7 linked regions of the Homo sapiens genome follow. The protein of the gene in region 4 interacts with the protein of the main gene of each other region in a pairwise test. Each region holds a gene or a part of one and is shown on either strand. Other genes may lie near its edges.

Region 1 (3,500 bases), on a different chromosome or scaffold from region 4:
TGATATTCTTGCTGTCAAGGACAGTTTGGGAAATCCTATGTGAGCATCTACTCATAATTGCCTTAAGTGAAGTAAACCAAAAGTTTGATAGCATTCTTCTTAGTATGCTTGGTAGTTTTCTTAGATTTATGATGAATATCCTTGGGCAGTAGTGATCAGGTAGTTAAGAAACCCCTATAGATACATGATAATAATTCTCCTGTCTTGTTGTCTCTGAAAGGCCCACCTGTAGATCCAGATGAAGACTCTGACAACAGTGCAATTTATGTACAAGGATTAAATGACAGTGTGACTCTAGATGATCTGGCAGACTTCTTTAAGCAGTGTGGGGTTGTTAAGGTCAGTAAAAGCATAACCAGGTCATCTGGCAGAACTTTAAACCACAGAGCATTTTAAAGAGATTGAATTGATGTTGAGAGTTGTTTTCTAAGGTTGCCTTTGCCTGACTTCTTTCTAGGTATCTTATGGTTTGTTCCTTTTTAAAAAAGATTAGCCTTTTTTTTTTTTTTTTTTTGAGACGGAGTTTCCTTCTTGGTGCCCAGGCTGGAGTGCAATGGCGCAAGTCTTGGCTCACTGCAACCTCTGTTCAAGCGAATCTCCTGCCTCAGCCTCCCAAGTAGCTGGGATTACAGGTGTGCGCCACCAGCTAATTGTGTCTTTTTAGTAAAGATGGGGTTTCACCGTGTTGGGCAGGCGGGTCTCAAACTCCTGACCTCAGGTGATCTGCCCACCTTGGCGCCTCCCAAAGTGCTGGGATTACAGGTGTGATCCCCTACGCCCGGCCTTCCCTCCTCCACCCCTAGGGACAGAGTGTTGCTCAATCTCAGCCTCCCAGGTTCAAGTGATTCTCCCACCACAGCCTCTTGAGGTAGCTGGACTTATAGGCACATGCCACCACACCCAACTAATTTTTATATTTTTAGTGGAGATGGATTTTTGCCTGTTGGCCGGGCTGGTCTCTAACTCCTGGCCACCTCAAGTGGCCACCTACCTCAGCCTCCCAAATTGCTGGGATTACAAGCATGAGCCACTACACCCAACCTCAAATTATTGTGTCTTTATGCTAATTCTTCATAGCTAGTAACGCAGATTTTTTCTTCAGGGATTTTGACTGTTTTTCAGTTCTTGCTCTTCTGTATTAGAGTTAGTTTATGAACCCCATAAACCTCAAAACCTTAAAACCCCAATTGAATATTTACTAAATCTATGAAGTAATTTCAGGAGAATTTACATTTTTATGATACTGAGTGATCTTTTTTTCCCCATGAAGATTTTATTTCTCCATTTATTTGTATATTTATTTGCTTATTTATTTACTGAGACAGTCTTGCTGTGTCACCAGGCTGGAGTGCAGTGGCACGATCTCGGCTCACTGCAGCCTCTGGCTCCTGGGTTCAAGCGATTGTCCTGCCTCAGCCTCCTGAGTAGCTAGGATTACAGGTGCCCGCCACCACACCCAGCTAATTTTTGTATTTTTAGTAGAGATGGGGTTTGGTGAAACCATGTTGGTCAGGCTGGTCTTGAACTCCTGACCTCAGGTGATCTGCCGCCTCAACTCCCAAAGTTTTGTGATTGCAGACATGAGCCACTGTGCCTGGCCTGTCTCTATTTGTTATTTTATTTTACTTTGAGACAGAGTCTCACTCCTTCACCCGGCTGGATTGCAGTGGCGCAGTCTTGGTTTACTGTAACCTCTGCCTCCCGGGTCTCCTTGCCTCAGCCTCCCGAGTAGCTGGAATTACAGGCGCCTGCCAGCACCCCTGGCTAATTTTTGTAAGTAGAGATGGGATTTCACCAGGTTGGTCAGGCTGGTCTTGAACTTCTGACCTCACGTGATCCACCCACCTAGGCCTCCCAAAGTGCTGTGATTACAGGTGTGAGCCACCACACCCAGCCTATTTAGATCTTCAGTAAAGACTATCGATTTCCTTAAAGGTCTTGCAAATTTTACTAGTTTTACTTCTAGGTTTCGTTTATTTTCAAGTTGCTGTGGTTAAGGGTCTTCGTTAAATGACACTTTTCTGGTTATTACTGGTGTATAGAAATACAGTTGATTTGGCCGGGCGCGGTAGCTCACGCCTGTAATCCTAGCACTTTGGGAGGCCGAGGCGGGTGGATCACGAGGTCAGGAGATCGAGACCATCCTGGCTAACACGATGAAACCCCGTCTCTACTATAAATACAAAAAATTAGCCAGGCTTGGTGGCGGGCACCTGTAGTCCCAGCTACTCGGAGGCTGAGGCGGGAGAATGGCATGAACCTGGGAGGCGGAGCTTGCAGTGAGCTGAGATGGCGCCACTGCATTCCAGCCTGGGTGACTGAGTGAGACTCCGCCTCAAAAAAAAAAAAAAAATACAGTTGATTTTGGGCGGGCGTGGTGGCTCATGCCTGTAATCCCGGCACTATGGGAGGCCGAGGTGGGTGGATCACGAAGTCAAGAGATCGAGACCATCCTGGCCAACGTGGTGAAACCCCGTATCTACTAAAAATACAGAAATTAGCCGGGTGTGGTGACACGCGCCTGTAGTTGAGCTACTTGGGAGTCTGAGGCAGGAGAATCAGTTGATCCCAGGATGCAGAGGTTGCAGTGAGCTGAGATGGCGCCACTGCACTCCAGCCTGGCGACAGAGCAAGACTCCATCTCAAAAAAAAAAAGGAAATACAGTTGATTTTGGTAAATCTTATATAAGGTGATTTCTCCCTGCTTGTAGGTGTGTGTGTGCACAGATATCACACACACCTCAAAAGTAAAATGCTTTTAGTGTCTACTGTCACATTCTACCCTGTGCAAGACTCCTTGTTTGCTTTTTTGTTTTGAGATGGAGTCTTGCTCTGTTGCCCAGACTGGAGTGCAGTGGCACAATTTCAGCTCACTGCAACCTCCGCCTCCTGGGTTCAAGCCTCAAGCCTCTTGAGTAGCTGGGAGTACAGGCTTGAGCATATTAAAAAGACTGCTTTTTAATATGTATATAACATGTAGTTTATTGAGGAATGTGGAGTTTATCCTGGTTAAGAAAGTAGTATTTACCATCAAAATTTTGGAAATAAAGATGTTAAAATAGATTTCCAAGCTGGATACAGTGGCTCACATGTGTAATCCCAGCACTTTGGGAGGCCAAGGCAGGAGGATCCCAAGGATTGCTTGAGCCCAGGAGTTTGAGACCAGCCTGGACAACAGAGTGAGACTCTGTCTCACAAAAAAGAAAAAAATGCATTTCCACATTATTCATACCACAGTTTTGCCATATTTTCTTTTCAGTTTTTAGGTATCACGTTCCTTTTTTTAAGTCAGAGGTATCAATATATATATCCTGTTGTAATCTTTTTTAAGTCCTATAAATAGATTGCTCTTGTGTTACTGGATATATGTAAACAATTACAGACTAAACTGATCGTGTGCATATATAATGCAAAAAAGTACACGTGAAGATATTCTTATACAAGGTAGCTCCTGAATTCAAGTCAACCACATCTGATATTCAGCTGAAAGACTAGTCATC
Region 2 (3,500 bases), on a different chromosome or scaffold from region 4:
GAGGCTGAGGCAGGAGAATTGCTTGAACCTGGGAGGCCGTGGTTACAGTCAGCTGAGATCACGCCATTGCACTCCAGCCCAGGTGACAGTGAGATTCTTGTCTCAACAAACAAACAAACAGACAAAAACATGACCTTTGAAGCCTGGCAGATCTAGTGTGGGATCCGAGTTCATCCATTCACCAGCTGAGTGATCTTGGTAGAAGAAATTATTCTCTTAGCCTTGTCTTCTCATTTGGGAAAAATTAAAGGTTCAAAAGATTGTTGTGAGGACTAAATAAGAGAATATGTATTTTTCATCCAAAAGCATGATACTTGCTATTTTTAACCTTTTATATTCTCAGTCAAATTTATTTTTAAAAATAAAGGTCTGAGATTCTTCTTGTTAGGTTTCGCTCTGAGTTTATTGGTGTCTTTTGCTTGTTTTGCTCTTCATTTAGCTTGGTGTTGGTGAGGACAGGCTCTGGTGTCCTAGGACAAGTTACTTATTCTTTCAAAATCTGTTTCCTCAGAATTACAAACCTCATGGTATGATGTGGATTAAAAAGTACATATTTATGCACCACTAACCCAGTGAGCATTTAGTAAGTGAATGCTGCTTGCTATTGGCAAATTTATTGCTCTAAAGAGAGCATTTTACTGGGCTGAGCTCACTGTTGGTTCTCTCTGTTTCTTCCCTCAGCCTTTGCCTGCTAAGAGGGAGACCAGGTCATGGCAGCCATGCCTCTGAAAGCTCAATACCAGGTGAGCTGTGGATCCCTGAGGTCAGCTCTATGGAGGTCTGAGTTGAAGGAAATGAGGTGGATAAAGGTGATTCTGGCAAGTCTTAGAGCCAAAGCAGTAGGAAAACCCCTGCTGATTCCCTCCAGTAGGACTGGGTGCTGGGGAAAGAGCTAGGGGCAGTGAAGATGGAAACAGGAGAGAGTGATCTGGAAAGCTGAAGTACAGCCTCCTGAATACTGAGAATCTCTCCTGGGCCAGAGGATCCCCAGGTTCAGTAGCTGTCCCTCTGCAGAGGGAATTGTGAGAACGAGGGACTCAGGCTGGTGATGTAGGGATCCAGGATAGGATGGAAGTGACTAAGATCAGCAAGGGCACAAGGTTTTTGGGAAGTAGCAGCAGAGGGACAGCAGGAAGAAGACAAGAAAGAGGGGGCCTATCTAATTTGTCCTCCAAAAGAAAGGAGGAAGTTTGGGCTTCAGAATCAGGAAACATATGTCCTTGAGGTCAGTACTGCTGGCGAAGTGAGGCAATGGGCTGTGATAGGAAAAGTCTACACTCCCAACAGGACACCTGAAGTTAGGGATCTGTTAGGCCTCAGTGGCATCATAGCCTTGAGCCAGTCACATAATTGCTTTGCATCTTAACTGGATTCATTTGTAAGGTGAACATAAGTACCTTACATTTTTGGGACAGAGAATTGATTTCTTGAATTACATTTCACTTTTTGAGACGGAGTTGCTGCTTTGTCATTTCTTTTCTCCTGGCACTTATTTATCCAGTAACTTAGTATCCATGAACCATATCCCAAATCATAATCTCATATTTCTCACATCCTTCAGTTTTCTCTACCTGACTGTGTCACTGATATATCAGCTTCCTTGGAGCTCCCACCCTCTTCTGGTTTTTCCACAAGTGTCTGACATCACACTATATTGCAGTCCTGATCACTCAGTTTCTAAATTGCTGTGTAATTGTTGACTATGTTCTCCCCTGATACCATTTCCAGAGAGACACAAAGTCTTGTTGTTTTTCCTTCTCTCTCTGCCACTTGTGCCATCTTTCAGATTACATTTAGAGTTTGTTGTTCCTTCTCTGGAATTTTGTTTGCAGCGCTTCCCGGATAGATTCTCTGTGTATAGTTGTGCACCTTTCCATCACTTTGTCACCTAATACAGCTCAGTTTCCTGAGTTTGGATTTTATCCTCCAATCCAGGGTTCTCAGACTTCAGTGTACATCAGAATTACCTGGAGGGCTCACTGAAGTATGGACTTCTCTCAGAGTGGGGCCCAAGAATTTGCCTAACAAATTCCCAAGTGTTGCATCCGCTACTGGTGGTGGTCTGGAGACCACACTCTGAATACCACTGCTCTAGTTAGTGGTGATTCATTCAAGAGGTTCATTCAGGAGTTGATGAAGTCAGGTTGTCAGCTGGGCAGAGGATAGATTCAGTGTGGGACAAGACTGGAAGTAGAGCTAAAGTGTCCCCAGCTGTTGACCTAGTTTACTGATTGTACCACAGTGAAGAAGAGTCAGATTCCAGAAATAACGTAGGTAATAAAATTGGCAGGACTTGAGTATTAACTGTCAGCAATGAGTGATGATGGGGGTTAGAATGTCTAGGATTAATCTGAAGTTCTAGCATTAGAGACTGGGTTGAAATTGGTGTTATCAACAGAGAGGGAAAAATATTGTCACACTGCCACTTAGTTTATATAAATTAGAAAGGAAGCCATTTTGGGGAAGATGAGTTTGGGGTTGCTTGGTGAGTCAGTGTGTTGGGTCATCCAGAGAGTCTGAGGCAGTGCTGGGATGAGGGGGATGTGGATATGTGCAAAATCAGTTGAGGCATTGGAAGGTCGGAGTGTATTCCCTGAGCACTCCGGTAACGAAGTTCAATACCAACATCTGAGGAGTGAATAGAGGCTCTAAACCAGATGCCAGAACTTTGTGGAAAGGTAGAGTTGAGGCCAGCAGGGAGGGAGAAGGGTGTCTGTTGAAAAAGCATGAGGGGCTGGGCATGGTGGCTCATTCCCGTAATCCCAGCACTTTGGGAGGCCGAGGCAGACGGATCTCTTGAGTCCAGGAGTTTGAGACCAGCCTGGGGAACGTGGCAAAACCTTGTCTCTACAGAAAATACAAAGATTAGCCTGGCATGGTGGTGTGCACCTATAGTCCCAGCTACTCAAGAGTCTGAGGCGGGAGGATCACCTGAGCTGGGAGGTCGAGGCTGCAGTGAGCTGAGATTGTGCCACTGCACTCCAACCTGGGTGACAGAGCAAGACACTGTCAAAAACAGAAAAAAAAGAGAAAAAGAACCAAAACCGAAAGAAAGAAAGAAAAAAAAACCCAAGAAGCATGAGGCTTGGTTGGCAGAAGCTATTACAGATTGTCTTGGAGCTATAAAGATAAGGAGCTAAAAGAGCTACCCAGCAGCAGCAATTTAATTCTAGAAGCATGGTTTTCTAGGAAAAGCCATCAAGGAGCAGAGTGGATTGTGCCAGGAGACTCTGAGCTCCCTCTACAGGATGCTCTTGAGCACAGGCAGCCCAGTCCTTTATACAAGAATCGAATGGGAGTCGGATGAGATAGGCCCATCAGTGCAAACCATGACTCTGTGCTTGTTTCATGGGCATAAGGTTTGGGGCAGGGTGAACACATGTGGGGAACAGATAGATTGGCTGAGAATAGGGAGTACCTAATAGGAATAGGTGGGTCCTGAGATACCATTTGAAGCAAATTGTCCACCTGTAGGTACAAAAGTAAAAGACTGAAAATAT
Region 3 (3,500 bases), 2.4 Mb from region 4:
CGGCTTCCAGCTCCATCCATGTTCCTGTAAAGGACATGATCTCATTCCTTTTTAGGACTGCAGGGGTATTATTTAAATATGCATAAAATGCTCACGGGGAGCAGAGGAGAGGTGACATCGGGTTGCATACTGAATGGATGGGAACATCCTTATCTCAGATAAGCATATTCAGACTGAGTTACCCACCGGCTTCTCAAGCCCAGAGACCTACTGTGCTTGCAAAGGTAATTTGCAATGTGCTTACAGAACTATAACCGTAATAGACTCTGGATAAAGGCTGGAACAATGTCGCTGAAAAATAAATGTTACCAGGGACCTGGAGAGGAGGTATGGTGATAGCAGAGGAATGGAATGAGCTTGGAATTCAAAGACACACAACACCTAACAGCAACGTGATGACTCCTCTAGTTCTTATTTTCAGAGTAAAAGAAGCAGGAGGTGCACCTGTAGATTCAGGTGAAGGTGCGTAAGGAGACTACACAGCCATGGGTAACACCCTTACAAGGAAATGGTCATGTTATCTGTATGGTGGTGTCACTCTGGCTGAATGTCAATTAAAGTGGTTACTTAAAAGGCCATTCACATTCACCTGATAGGGCTGGGAGTCCCGTGGGCGAGAGGTGGGGAGGGGATTCCTGCTTACCTTGAAATCTGAGCTCTGCACCAGGAAGCAGAGGTCAAAGGGCATCCCCTTCTGGAAGGGCATGTGCATCTTCCTCTCCTCGGGCCCCCATCTTCCTTTCTGCCTCGTGTTGCACACCACATACCCTCCGTCTTCAAACCGAGGGTTGAAGTGGAAGGCAATGTCGTTTCCACTGAAGCCCGTCTGAAAGTCCACAGCAAACCTAGGCCCAGGAAAAGCAAATAGTCTTCTGTGGCATGGATTATTGCCAGTGACAGGCACAGGAGGGCCTCGGTGCCTCTGCCCTGTGTTTGTCTGGGATCTTGCATACAACCTGCGTGGCAGAGACTGCTTGGTTGGCATCGTTTTTGTTTCTCTAATTTGGATCCAATGTGTTTTTGTGCGATTATTGCATTTTGCCTTTACAGCACGATTTTCTAAACATAAGTAGAAAATGGCTAAGGGAAAGTGCTGGCATTAGCAAACAAGAAGCATAGGTCCTGGAAAGTGATTACCAGTTGGTAACAAAGATGGAAGTTGTTAAGCACACCTAGAAGAGAGAGGCTTCTGTGCCAGTGGACACTTGTTGGAGGCCAGCACATGCCTGATTAAGTGCGAAAGAAGAGAACAAATGTAAAGAGCATGTGAAATCGGGGCCGGGCGCAGTGCCTCACGCCTGTAATCACAGCACTTTGGGACGCCAAGGTGGGTGGATCACTTGAGCCCAGGAGTTGAAGACCAGCCTGAGCAACAGAGCGAGATCTCATCTCTACTTAAAAAACAAAAAGATATATATATATATTTAATTAGCTAGACATCATGATGCATGTCTATAGTCCCAGCTGCTCTGGGGGATGAGATGGGAGGATCCCTTGAGCCCAGGAAGTCGAGGCTGCAGTGAGCTATGATCGTACCACTGCACTCCAGCCTGGGTGAAAGAAAAAAGTCCCTGTCTCTAAAGAAAAAAATAAATTAATTAAATGAATAAATGGAGAAGATTGCATTTGAAATATCACTGCATGTATTTTTTTCCTTTGGAGACCTTCAGCTTCATTCCTGTGGCCCTTTGGAAATTCCTGCCCCAAGGAAGGGAGAGACAGAAAGCTCCTGAGAGGAGAGGGCCCTCTGAGGTAGGATCTGTCTCTGTGCAACAGGATGGGAGTGGGAAGCCCTCCTGGTGCTGGGAGGTGGGGGAAACAGAGGGAGAGGGAAAGAGGAAGGGGTGGAAGATCAGAGGCATGGTTCTGATTCCCCCGGTTGGAGGATTCAGGGGGATCAGGGCCTCCCTGCCCTTGGCATCTCCTGGGGGCACTGCAGGCTCTCAGAGAAGTCCGACAGCAGGATAGCAATGGCGGAGGAGGTCATCAAGAATCTAGGTGGCGGAGCTGAGGTTGAGCTGGCATCTACGAGGCCCAGAGGGTCTTAAGAGAGGTCCACTGGGACTGAGGCAGAGAGGCTTCCGAGAGAGAGCCATGAGTCCAGAGGCTCTTCTGTGGGCCCCGCAGACTTCAGCAGGCAGCCACCCGTGGTCCCTCACTAAACCAGGAGAGAGCTGCACACCTCTGTGCCACCCAGTCAGGATGCCTCGGCAGGGGTCAGCCAGGCCTGCGTGAGGGTCGGGGGCCCTCCCAGCCACTGACAAGCCACGTGAGCTCCTCTCTGTTCCCAGACAGCCCACCTTGGGAGGGAGGAAGGGGTGGGAAACAGCCCTGATACAATGTTAGTATTTTGAATGGACTTAGTAGTTTCCAGAAAAGGCCTTGAAACCGAAAGAGACCAAATTACTTCGGATGTCAATTTTCAGTATTTTCATGTCAGCAGAAGGAGAGCTTCAGAGTGGATGAAAGCAGTTATGGGAAACGGAGGAAGTTTGATTTTTGCAACTCTCAGTCACAGTGTGCAAGGTTCAGCCCAGAACATAATCATCCAACTCTGACCATCCCACTCCTTCCTTAGACCTTCAGCTCCCAGGGCCCCATTCATCCTGGAGTCCAGGTTAATGGCATCCCTGGGTGCAGGTTGTGCCTGTGGAGTGCTGTCCTGTGGCATGGGTTAAGGATGCATTGGGTCTCCCCTGCGCCAGGCACGTGAGCTTGGATGTTGTTGTTTGAACTAACCGAGGCTCACAGGCACAGTGGCTTTACTAAGGGACGAGGCTGGAGTGAAACGTTTCCATCCATATACACACACCTGGTTCCACTGGAGCTGAGAACGGCCCCATTGACAGTGATCTGAAATCCGTCCTGGAGACCCCCTTGGATAGTCCCAGAAAAGGGGACGGCCTGCAGGGAGAAGACATGGGGCCTCAGTCAGGTGGCCGGCCTCCTGTTTGCTCCCCTTCGGGGCTAGTCAGTGGCTGGCCTGGGTGTGACCGCACCATGCGAGGGGCTAGGGTGCAGCTGTGACCAGGACAGAAGGAGTCTCAGCCCCACGGGTCTTAGGGTCCTGTGTGGAGGCAGACACAAATCCAATTAGTTACTCAGACAGTCTAAGCTTGTGATAAGGAGAATCCTGGCCCTGAGAGGACGCGACAGGGAGCTGAGCTTGTGTGAGAGTCTGAGAGGCAGCGGAGGCCACACCAGGAACGCTCCAGGCGGAAGGCCTTCCTTCCAGGCAGGGAAGTAGCAGGCAGACGCCCTGGGCTGGTAAGGAACTAGGTAGCAATGGGGCTGCTGGACCCCATGCCAAGCTCCCAGCAAAGTGCCCAGCGCCCTGGCTGGGGACTCAGGAGGCCCAAGGGAACAAAGGGACCCATCAAGGGTCTGCAGGTTCCACCGAGAGGGTCACCAGAGAGTGTCAAGAAGAAGGCATGCACCTCTCCCCACCACCACCATATAACAATGGCCACCATGACCTTTGCCCTCCTGACCACCTTCAG
Region 4 (2,324 bases):
GAGGACCCTCCAGAAGAGCAGAGTGCAGGCAGGGCATCCCAGCTCCACCATGTCACCCCCGCAGCCCTGGTGTCATCTGTGACAGTACCTCACAGTGCCTTCGAGGAACAGTTCAGGGAGACAGTGCATGGGAAGCGTGGAGAGGCACCCAGCATGCGATCAGTGCCCTGTGAGCAGGGTTGATGCCATTACCTTACTCAGGCTGGCAAGGACACAGGGCTGAGAGAGCCTGTCTGCCTGAGAACCACTCTTCCCCCCTGCCCTCTTACTGGCCTGACACCAGAAAGTAGCGCCTGCCTCCTGGGACACTAGAGGTGGCTATGTCAGGAGGACCCTTAGGACTCCTGGGTGGGAGATGAGCGGAAACATGCACATCAGGTGACCTTGTCAAGCCTGTCCAGGCTTTTAGCCCAGAAACAACTTCTATTTTCTACTTTCTAGAGTAAATCATTTGTTTTAGAACAGTAGGAACAAATAGAAACAACCAGCTTAGACCACAATTGTTTCAAAAGATTGTTTGATTAAAAGCCAGCCAAAAAAAAGCCTTCAGGCTGAGGCTGAAGAACACAAATAGAGTTGTCTGTGGATTACATGATTGTTTCCCCAGTGCAAGGTTCCTGACCACAGGCAGCAGATATCCAAACACGCCATGGGAGATAAGCTGTTTAACCCTCTGGAACCTAGACAAAACAGGAAGAATGGAGAAGTGCAGAGGCATACGTGAAAACAGGGCTCAGCACATTTCCAGGGTGGAGAAATATTTAATAAAATCAGAGTCGAGAGAAAGTCACTTGCACAATTCATCTCCTACATTCACTGCTGGCCAGGCCAGGGGCACCTGGGTTGAAATCAGGCTGACCTCCGGACAGCCGTACTAGCGCACTGTGTCTCGGGGGGAATCTCAGGGTGACGCTGAGGCCGAGTCCCCAAAAGCCAAGGAAGCCAGCCCCACAGGCTGGGGAGCCCTGAAGGCCGGGGGAGCTGTGGCTGCACTGCCTCTATCCTGCTGAGTGTGCTCTGCCCAGGCCTCACTCCTTCAGGAGCTTGTGCTTGACTGTGGTGCTCTCGGAGCAGAGATGGATGAAGAGGGTGCCGGCGGCGGTGCGGGCCCGCAGCTCCTGCAGCTCATAGTCATGGGCCCACTCAATGTTGCCCCACTTCTGGATCTGAGGGAAGGACAAGACAAGTTGCTGGGTGAGTGGCCAGTGCCTGGCTGCCTCCTGACCAAAGCCACGTTCCATTCCAATAGGTTGGCTGAGGGCAACAGGTTTGTATCTTGCCAAAACACATGAGACATGCCTAGGGGGAGGTGGCAGGTAAGAACACCCAGGTACGCCAGACACGGTGGCTCACGCCTGTAATCCCAGCACTCTGGGAGACCGAGGCAGGAAGACTGCTTGAATCCAGGAGTTCAAGACCAGCCTGGGCAAATATGGTGCAACCTCGCCTCTACAAAAAGGTTTAAAAATTAGCTGGGTGTGGTGGGGGTGCACCTGTAGTCCCAGCTATTTGAGAGACTGAGGTAGGAGGACTGCTTTGAGCCCAGGAGGCTGAAGCTGCAGTAAGCCAAGATCACACCGCTGCACTCCCACTTGGGCAACAGAGCAAGACCCTGTCTCAAAAACACCACACACACACACACACACACACACACACACACACACACCCCACCACCCCACCCCCAGGGAGCCGGAGCAGGCACCTGTGCTCTCTGTGGCATGGATGGTCTGGAAGAAGTGCAGTCCAGGCCCAGGCCCAGGGCCAGTGGCTGCCCACCCACCACTGGGCAGGCTGGGTACCAGAACCACCCATGTGACTTCTTTGAGGAGGCCTTATGTGCCATCCCTTCTCCTACACTTCCTCCCAGAAAGCCTGTGAATGGACAGCCTCTCCAAGTTGCCTTGCCATGCTGGGCTACAAGTGCCCCCCAGCGCCATGTGGGTGGAATAACTAAATCAAGTAAGGCCACGCAGTGGCTTCAACTCTGACTCTTGTGGTAGTCACAGAACTACAGATGCCTCTGCTCTGCACACTGGGGACAAGTTGCAGATTCTCTGTCTGGAGCTCTAAAAACAAGAGGGAGGAACGCTCAGACACACGATGTGGCTGTCCAGACAGTGTAAGTCCAACCAAACCTTGCTGGCTCCTCCCTGGCTAGTTGCCCAAGAGGCCTGGCCTGGCCGCCCCAGCTCATCCAGGAACTCAGAATCCACCATGCTACACAAGCTATTTGAACTTCTGGGCTGCCTGGTCCCAAACTGTACAATTGTAATATGTCATCTGAAGAGTATTCCATACTTTCATTGTATACCATCACATACATA
Region 5 (3,500 bases), on a different chromosome or scaffold from region 4:
AAGTCTGCAGTCTAGCTATGGAGAATGATGACTAACACACTTCAGATCAGAGCAGAATGACCTCTCAGTATATACTTCTGTGCTGTGCTGGGTGACACAGATGGTCAGCACTCTTTTTCAGAGGAAATAGAGATATTAGGAGCTGGGGTATCAGTGAAGGTGGAATTATTTCTGATAGAACAGTGTGATTTTCAAGAGCCAGGCTCTGATGTCTAACAGGCCTGGGGTTGAATCCATGCTCAGCCACTAGTCAGCGGTGGAAACTTTGGGAAAGTTAGCTGACCTCTCTGAGTGTCAGTTTCCTCATCTGCCAGATAGTAATAGAAAGAATACCTTAAGAGGCTTTCTATGAAGGTTGAATGAGTTCTTGCTCCACTTTCAATAAATGAGAGTGATCTCCTTCATTACCATACCATCACGATCCCCTTCAGTACGAGGCTTCAGAGGATGGAGAGAGGCATTGTCCATGGGCACAGATTGAAGCCAGCATTCCCTCCAAAAAAAGGGGAAGGCAAAAGGAGTGAAGGTATGGAGATAGAAAGGAGCCAAATGTTTTACTTCTAGGCTGGGGAGGACAAGCATAGAGAGCAGTTCTTCAAATACATAGGGAGAGATGACTGGACAAAGATGGTAGGACCAAGTGATGGCGACAATCTTTTGTGACTCTCATCAAACTTTGTAGGTCGATGCTGGGAAGATAATGTGCCCTGAAAGTTGCTGGAGAATAAGATCCACATATGATGACAGACAAGGGCAACAAGAAGCTCAAACAATATTTGCTAATTGGGTTGCAAAGTAGAAAGTAAAGCTGAATCTTCCCTTTATATTTGTAGCCCATTCAGCATTTTTATTATAAAGCTTCCAAAATATAAGTAAAACCCATGCCAGCTACATTTGAACTGTTTCTTGGAACCCCATTCCTCCTTCGGTCTCCCTAACATTTCTGTAGACTCTAAATAGAGTAAGAATAATGCATCCACATTTTTCTCCATAGAACCCCACTCACATAACCATCAACCTATGGTCATAGCAAGACAGGTGAAGCCACGTTTTGATAGTGAGATGAAATCAATCAGTGAAAAGTAGTTGTTGTTTTTAAGGAGTAAAGCTTTTTTGTATCTTTAAGAGAGAAGAAATCCAAGGCCATGAGCAGAAAAATTGTCTGACTCAGAATGTAGATTGGAGAACAAACATTACCTCTACAAGGAGACTCTGGGGCTTTTCAATATTTAGGATACTAGTATTTGTCTTTAATTCCCAAAAGGGATTTTTAAAAAAAAAAAATCCAAGGATAGGATTAATTATCTTGGAATTGTCTAATATCCACTCTTATGTTTGAAATTGCAAGCAGGGAGACGTTTTAAACATTATGAAAAGAAGAGAAAATCTCCCCTGACAAATAAATGCCTTGAAACATTAGATATTAGTACTAGTCAAGTGCTCTTTCTTTTCAGAAATATTAAAATTGCATATTAAAATGAAAGATCCTTAGACTGTGCTCCTGCCTAATGCCACAAAAAATAAGAATTTAAGAACAATTTTAGAGACAAAAGATTATATGAAACATCCAGCTCTTCCCCTTATGGGAAATTTCTTTTTTTAACATCCAAGGCTCAATCATTTCCTAATGTGAAATTACAGATTTTTCAAATTACCATATAAAACTGCAAAAAAATTACACTTGTGACCACAGAAGAGATGGCATACACTATCAATTTGATTTTAAAAGGCATACATCTTTTATACTACCTGTCATTTTTATAATGCCTTTTACAAATTTAATCAATACATTTTAACATTCTATATACTTTAAGTGCAATATACAATAAATATTCAAGTTTCATCTTAAACATGCTTTAGCCTTTAAATTGTTAAAACTGCAGTGCCCTTTCAATCTACTTACATAATGTCATAAAATATACATTTCAAGGTAAATGAAGTCAGCTACTTCAATTTAGTCCCTCAAACTGGTAGTAAATGAGAGGTTAACACTATGGTGCCAAACCCATTATTGAGTAAATTTAGCACCTTGGACAGCTCTGTAAAATCTTTATTGCTTTCCTGACCTGCTCGTCATGTTCTGTCTGTGTGTTCAGTGGCTCTCAGCTCTGATTGAAAGGCAATATATTAGATCCCCAACACAAACACGCCTGGGGGCTAGTTCACTGGGAGCGTAATGACATGGAGGTGAGAGCAATTTTCTGGTCACCGAAATCCAAGCAGTTTGCAGGTCCATTGCACTAACTCATGGAGGACCCAGAAATTTCCTTTCTCCTTCCCATTTGCAGAAATACCTAATAGAAGCCAAATCACATGGGCAAAGCTCAACCAAGTCTTTCTTAAGTCCTTACAAGTTGATACTACAGTGAAGGATATTTTTTAATGGGTAAGATATTATTTAAGGGTGTCCCTTTCAAGACAAGAAATCCAGGTTCACACTCCTCAAATCCAAGACTGCTGGCCTGAAGTGATGCTGTACTGATGACCTACCTATGGCAATGTACTCAATGGGAAAACATGCCCCAGCATGGTGGATCAAAGAAGGCAGCATCATGGATCAAAGAAGGATGCTCCTTTAGGAAACAAGATCCACGTGTTTTATTCTCAAAGGATTAAATGGGGATGAGAGCTCTGGATATCGACATAAGGAGAAAAAAAAAAGTAGATTTTGTCATTGAAAAACTCTATCACCAAGGATATATAATATATACTGATAGATGGTATGTTTTCAGGCTTATGAAAACTTCAAAGATCTTGGAGTTTAATTTTGAACTTCCCTCCTCCCTGCTTCTGTGAAATTAATTAAAATAAGGTACACTGCTCTAAGTCCTCAATTATAGTGTTACAAGAGTGAAGTTCACAAGTGCAGTTTCTTTCTGTGCCTCATCACGCTTTTGACAAACGGGAGACTTGCCTTTTTCCCCCCTAAAATGGAAAGAAAGGAAAATACGTTCCCTGCCAAGCCCCAACACTGGCATAAATATTTATTTGGAGAAATAAATGAACATAGGCCTAGAGAAGTCTAATCTTAGTAAATAAACTCACTTGATCCTGTTTTTTGTTTTCATCTTTCCTAAGAGCCAGATAAAGCCAAGAGGTTTTAGTGAAGGCAACACAGGCTGAATTTGATCTGGGGATAGGGTTTAGTGTGCCCGTACAATAGTAAATTATTAACTGCTGTGGTCAGACACTACTACAGCAAACAAAAAGTGGTAAATTAGCTTGTAGCTTACATTAAAAAATAAAGAAATGATTTCAGATGTATTGGTTCAAATCCCTTTGATTATATAATGTTCTTTACTCCCTACATGAAAAATAACTAAACTGTTTTATAAAGGGGGTCTATCAGCTTAAGGCAAGCATAAATGTTTATTGAGAACTGAAAACCCCACTATCTTATTTTTGAATTTAGGACATTAGATATGTCATAAGTAGTTACTGTAGTATGACAACTACTTTATCTTATATTATAGAGAATTTAAAATTGAAAAATGCTAATA
Region 6 (2,489 bases), on a different chromosome or scaffold from region 4:
GTTTTTTAGTCAGGAAAAATAGACCAGAATCATAACTCTGGCTTGAAAGGAGAATTTAGCTCTGAAATCCTTATAATGTTAGAATGCATTGAGTTCCAGGACATGACATTGGTTTCTATGTGGTAAATTTGTTACATCTTACTAAGTAGGGGGATTTGGGCATAATCAAGAACATAGACATAATAACCATCACAATTTGAAGAAATTAGTGTGAGGTCAAAGCTAAGACTGAACAAAAGGAAATGGAGAGCAGTGTGCCCTGTGTGGGTGCCCACGTGTGCCTGGTCTTGCCCACTTACAGATGGACTTAGCCCTGGCTTGGGGAAGCCTTTTCCTCTAGAACCATATTTGCTCACGTGTGTCTCCTAATTTTACTATTCTTCTGCCTTGAGATTGCTTATTCCTTTAATATTACAACTTACAGCAGAGTTTCCAAAGTGTGACTGTTGTTCACCTAGCCACATACATCTTTTAAAATGTAGGGGTGGACTCCATCTTCATATCTGAAGTAAATGTTCTAAAAGATGGTTCGGTAATTATACAATTATCCAAGGCCCAGAAACCCAGTCCTTGACTAAATTAGTGATGTGCTAATAATTCCCCTGTGTCAAACCAAATATCAAGACCATCCTCTCATTCGGCATGCCCAGGTAACAGGTGCCTCCACAGCTGAGCACACAGCAGGGCCTCCAGTAAAGAGGGGAGGTTTCTGGGGCCACCTGCCCTGAGATCTCAGGCTTTCTTGAGGCACCTGCTTCTCTAGAGGTCTTAGGACAGGAAACTCAGCAGCCTGCCTGAGAATGCAGCTTAAAATCCTTAGAGTCCAATAGTAAACGCATAGTGTGCACCAGAAACAGCTTTTAACCTTAAACTGCAAATATTGAATATTGCTTTAAAAATATGAAGCAGGAAGCCCACATTAATTTTCCTAACACATGTATTTTTAAAAAATTGCTTTTATTTATTTGCCTTTTCATTTTGTCAACAGCATCAACAGCTGTATTATAGTCAAGATGACTCCAACAGAAAGAACTTTGATGCATACAGATTGTATTTGCAGTCTCCTCATAGCTATGAAGATCCTTATTTTGATGACCGAGTTCACTTTCCAGCTTCTACTGATTACTCAACACAGTATGGACTGAAATCGACCACAAATTATGTAGACTTTTATTCCACTAAACGACCTTCTTATAGAGCAGAACAGTACCCAGGGTCCCCAGACTCATGGGTGTAGCATCAAGATGCCCAACAGAGGAACTCTTTCTTTCTAACCTTGTTCAGATTGAGGTGAAAAGTCCATCTTGCTGATTTGATGATTGAAATGTGAAAGTGAAGTGGAAGGAATGAATGAAGTGTGTTTTTTTTTTCTTTTTTGAGGAATTATCAGGGAAGTGAGGAAATGTTTGGGAGAGGACTTTCTAAGCTCTATTTAGGTGTTAGATCTAATTACTTATAGATTCTGTAGTCTGGTGAAGGTGTGGGTGACGTGATGAGAGGTTTGAGAAATGGGTGAAATGAAATGGGGGATATGTAGGTCAAATCAAATTAAAGATGATTTTTTTAATGTGAATAAAGTTATGTTCTGATAGTTTGTACAGAAAAAATAAAATGGATGCCCATGTTTTATTGCTATTACTAAATGTCAAGATTGTATGCTATTATGTCTTGTAAATTTCTTTTGTTGGTGTAAATATGGAAATGCCACATTGGTTAAGTGCCATCATTTGTAATGCAATGTGTCACTTGAAAAGAGATTTGAAGAAACTGACAACTTCAAAAACAAATGAGAAGCCCAAGGAACTGTGAGCAATTAAAAGCAAACCGCGACACCCTTTGTCTCCACCACACATAGTGTACTTTGGAAGCACAACGTCCAGGCTGGTACCGCAGCGCCATGCCCATTCCTCGCCTCATTCATAGGACACTTCACTGCCATTTTCTATTCACATAAAAGAAAAATAAATGTGGAAATTTCATCCTTGGAAATGTGTTCTCTATTCTTTTTAAATTTTCTGTATGTATATGGAAAAGCAGATTTAATAAACACAAATCTAACTGCATGTTGGAAACAGCTTAAATATATCCAACTATTTTGGACTTTTCCTAGTTTTATATATACTTTGTGAGATGGACCACACCAAAGAATTAAGCTATGAACTTTCCTTCTCTGACAATCTAGGTATTTTTATTTCTTGGAATCTATTTCAAATCTAGTACCCTTCACAGTTTTATCATGTTTTTCTATATGGCAGCCCGGCCATAACTAAATTGATATAACTAAATTGATACCTTTTTTAGGCATCATTTTTAAGAACTCAGTAACTTCATAAGAACAGTGGTTGGGCATTTATTTGGTTGGCACCAATATAATAAAACAAATTCTAAATTATGATCTTGTTGAGTAATTCCTGGATTAGGAATGGGGTAGGGGAAAGAAGCCCCACAGTAGGGTAGGCAGAGGTCCCCATAGCACCACACAGCATTAC
Region 7 (3,500 bases), on a different chromosome or scaffold from region 4:
TAATACTAGGCATTGCCCCTAGCTACCCAGGAGCATGGAAGTTCAACACCAAAGGCATGGAAGTAGTCTACTTGTCCCTAAACACAGTGTGTCTAATTCACCCTCTGGATCAGGGAGCATAAGGACTTCTAAGGCACATTACATACACTATAAAAAGGGTTCTTAATGCTGTGGAAGAGAACTTCAGAGAGAACATTATGAGGGTCTGGAAGGATTACAGTTGAAGATGATGCCATCATTTTTATAGAAAAAGTCATGAAAGCCATCAAGTCTGAAATAATAAATTCCTGTTGGAGAAAACTCTCCAGGTGATATGCATGATTTCACAGGATTTATGACAAAGCCAATCATGAAAAAGATGGTAGATATGGCAAAAAAGGTTGGAGGTGAAGGATTTCAAGATACGAATTTTGGAGAAATTAAAGAGTCAGTAGACACCATGATAGAGGAATTAACAGAAGATGACTGGGATGGATAAGAGTGCTTTCAAACCAGTGCCACAAGATGAAGAAGACAACACAGAAGTAATGTCAGAAAACAAGTTGACATTAGATAATCTGACAGAAGGGTTCTAATTATTCAAGACTGCTTTTGACTTTTTTTTTTTTTTTTTTTTTGAGACGGAGTCTCGCTCTGTCACTCAGGCTGGAGTGCAGTGGCACGATCTCAGCTCACTGCAACCTCTGCCTCCTGGGTTCAAGCAATTCTCCCACCTCAGCCTCCCAAGTACCTGGACAACAGGCACGCGCCACCATGCCTGGCTAATTTTTGTATTTTTTTAGTAAAGACAGGGTTTCTCCATGTTGGCCAGGCTGGTCTCGAAATCCTGACCTTAGGTGATCCACCTGCCTCAGCCTCCCAAAGTGCTGGGATTCTGTAATCCCACTGTAATCCCAGTGGCTGAGCCACTGCGCCCAGCCTGCTTTTGACTTTTACGACATCGACCCTTCTATGATACATCACTGAAACTAAAACAAATGGTGGAAGAATTGGTATCTCATAGAAACATTTTTAGAGAAATGAAAAAGCAGAAAAGTCAAGACAAATTATAGTGTATTTCTGTAAAGTTACACAGAATGTGCTAGCCTCTCCTGCCTCCCCCTCCACTTCTTCTGCCTCTGCCACTCCTGAGACAGCAAGACCAACCCTACCCTTCTGCCTACTCAACAGTGAAGATAATGGGGATGAAGGCCTGTATGGTGATCCAGTTAATGAATAGTAAATATACTTTCTCTTCCTTAGGATTTTCTTAATATTTTTTTCTAACTTTACTTTTAGAATATTGCTTACAATACATAAAACAAAAATGCTTCCAGTCAACAGCAGGCTATTACATTTTAGGGCAAAATTTATTATAGTTCTCAGTTACATAAGTGGGAGCTGAATGATCAGAACCCATGGACACATAGTGGGGAACAACATACACTGGAGCCTGTTTGGTGGGGGAGTTGGTCAACGGGGAGGGAGAGCATCAGGAAGAGTACCTAATGGATGCTGGGGTTAATACCTAGGTGATGGGTTGATCTGTGCAGCAAACCACCATGACACACATTTACCTATATAACAAACCTGCGCATGTACGCCAGAACTTAAAAGTTGAAGGAAAAAAAAATTTCATTATGGCAGAGTTTTGACTACATGGGTGGTCGGTGCCCCTAACCCCTCCATTGTTCAAGGGTCAAGTGCATATTAATATAATCAGAAAAATAACAGAACGAGAATTTTTTAAATTATTGCATATTGAAAGTGTACTCATAGGCAATTAGTATGCTAAATATATATTACAAGTTACGAGCAAAATAGTGGTTACATCGATTGATTTTTGAATAGTGGACCAGCCTTGCATTGATGTAATAAACTCCCACTTGGATGTGATATATAATACTGCTGCATTCACTTTGCTAGCTAACAATAGAAACTAAGATTAGAAGGAAAGCATATGTTTAGCTTAGCATGGTGGTTCCAAATCTGGCTAATCAAAATCAACTGGAGGACTTGAAAACACAAATTTCCAAACCCTAACTCTGCAGTGAGTTTGGTGTGCTGCCTAGGAACCTGCATTTTAAATATGCTTTCTAATAATATTTATGGAGCCAAGTAAGCCCAGCCATCTATTTATAAAGTGGAATAGTACATTGAGATTGTTGGTTTAGTGTTTAAAACAAAAGCAAAATATCTTTGAGAAGTCTATCAGGTTTTTCTTACACACGTGATAGACATGTAATTTAGTGCTTCCTATTATTCCAGGATACAGAAATGAACAATAGTGTCTACCACCTGGATGTACACTGTTTAATAGGTGAAATAGATATGTAAAAGCAATTAAAATATGATAAATGCTATGAGAGAGATGTAAAAAGTGTTATAGGTGATCTGATAATGGACTGATTGATTACCTGGCAGTTTTAAGGAAGCCTTTAAAAATAATATATTTGAACTGGGTTTTAAAGAATGATATAAATGTTGCTAATACACCAAAAAAATGTCATCTGCAAATATGGTTTGTTCACAAAATGGAGAGAAGGGGAGGATGATAGGACATGAGGCTAGGAAATGTAGGTTGCAGCTCAATGATGTGTATGTAGGGCCTTATTTTCCATTCTGAAACATAGTTAGTGGATTTATATCAAAGGATTTCAAATAGAAGAACATCATGATGAGAATAATTTTAGGATTTATATACTCTACTTTAGGGGGTGGAGAGTTCTTTTTACCTAGGCTTAGGGAATAGAAAGTGGTGTAGAGAATATAACTTCAATTACTTCTTTCATCATTTTTCTTCCTTTAGTCCACAAGCCCTAGCCATGCCGTGGTAGCCAATGTTCAGCTTGTCTTGCATCTAATGAAGCAACACAGTAAAGCTTTGTGCAATGATCGAGTCATCAACAGTATTCCTTTGGCAAAGCAAGTATCTTCACGAGGTGGTAAAAGTAAGAAGTTGTCAGTAACACCTCCCTCCTCCAACGGTATTAATGAGGAGTTGTCAGAAGTCTTACAGACTTTACAGGATGAATTTGGGCAAATGAGCTTGTGAGTTTTTGTTTTTTTTTTTAAATTCAGTTTAGCTCTAAAACCTCATTTTTTAAAAACTTGTTGACTTTATTAAATCTTACTTTCCTTTGTTGAGCAAGTATGGTTGAGCACAATCCTTATACCAACCAAGTTACTGGGACTTTAACAAATACAACTAATAAGGGTAAAATCTCTCTCTTTTTAAATACTGTTAAATGTTTTGAAGACCAAGGTTTATATTTAAGTTTTATTTCTTTGAGAACTTATGATATACAGTCATGCATCACTGAATGACAAAGATGTGCTCTGAGAAATACATCATTAGGCGATTTTCTTTTCCTTGTGCTAACATAAGAGTGTGCTAAGCTTATAGCTTATTGCTCCTAGGCTACAAACCTATACAGCATGTTACTCTACTACTAAATACTATATGCAGTTGTAACACAATGGTAAGTATTTGTGTATATAAACATCTAGGTAGAGTAAAA

What was found.
Region 1: the proteins of ATPAF2 (region 4) and EWSR1 interact in binary tests that used the Homo sapiens proteins (3 or more experiments, as listed by UniProt).
Region 2: the proteins of ATPAF2 (region 4) and ZNF19 interact in binary tests that used the Homo sapiens proteins (3 or more experiments, as listed by UniProt).
Region 3: the proteins of ATPAF2 (region 4) and LGALS9B interact in binary tests that used the Homo sapiens proteins (3 or more experiments, as listed by UniProt).
Region 5: the proteins of ATPAF2 (region 4) and EBF1 interact in binary tests that used the Homo sapiens proteins (3 or more experiments, as listed by UniProt).
Region 6: the proteins of ATPAF2 (region 4) and PKP4 interact in binary tests that used the Homo sapiens proteins (3 or more experiments, as listed by UniProt).
Region 7: the proteins of ATPAF2 (region 4) and CEP57 interact in binary tests that used the Homo sapiens proteins (3 or more experiments, as listed by UniProt).

What each region holds. Positions count from the first base shown.
Region 1 is NC_000022.11:29,292,268-29,295,767, forward strand, and holds part of EWSR1 (RNA-binding protein EWS), read left to right. Parts: intron 1-220; coding exon 221-339; intron 340-3,500. UniProt on the Homo sapiens protein: Binds to ssRNA containing the consensus sequence 5'-AGGUAA-3'. Might normally function as a transcriptional repressor. EWS-fusion-proteins (EFPS) may play a role in the tumorigenic process.
Region 2 is NC_000016.10:71,479,325-71,482,824, reverse strand, and holds part of ZNF19 (zinc finger protein 19), read left to right. Parts: intron 1-681; 5' UTR 682-710; coding exon 711-743; intron 744-3,500. UniProt on the Homo sapiens protein: May be involved in transcriptional regulation.
Region 3 is NC_000017.11:20,457,540-20,461,039, forward strand, and holds part of LGALS9B (galectin-9B), read right to left. Parts: intron 2,905-3,500; coding exon 2,813-2,904; intron 846-2,812; coding exon 644-845; intron 1-643.
Region 4 is NC_000017.11:18,017,521-18,019,844, forward strand, and holds the end of ATPAF2 (ATP synthase mitochondrial F1 complex assembly factor 2), read right to left. Parts: intron 1,167-2,324; coding exon 1,029-1,166; 3' UTR 501-1,028; downstream 1-500. UniProt on the Homo sapiens protein: Plays a role in the assembly of the F1 component of the mitochondrial ATP synthase (ATPase).
Region 5 is NC_000005.10:158,715,417-158,718,916, reverse strand, and holds part of EBF1 (transcription factor COE1), read left to right. Parts: intron 1-3,500. UniProt on the Homo sapiens protein: Key pioneer transcription factor of B-cell specification and commitment. Recognizes variations of the palindromic sequence 5'-ATTCCCNNGGGAATT-3'.
Region 6 is NC_000002.12:158,679,441-158,681,929, forward strand, and holds the end of PKP4 (plakophilin-4), read left to right. Parts: intron 1-988; coding exon 989-1,237; 3' UTR 1,238-1,989; downstream 1,990-2,489. UniProt on the Homo sapiens protein: Plays a role as a regulator of Rho activity during cytokinesis. May play a role in junctional plaques.
Region 7 is NC_000011.10:95,824,998-95,828,497, forward strand, and holds part of CEP57 (centrosomal protein of 57 kDa), read left to right. Parts: intron 1-2,788; coding exon 2,789-3,030; intron 3,031-3,500. UniProt on the Homo sapiens protein: Centrosomal protein which may be required for microtubule attachment to centrosomes. May act by forming ring-like structures around microtubules. Mediates nuclear translocation and mitogenic activity of the internalized growth factor FGF2, but that of FGF1.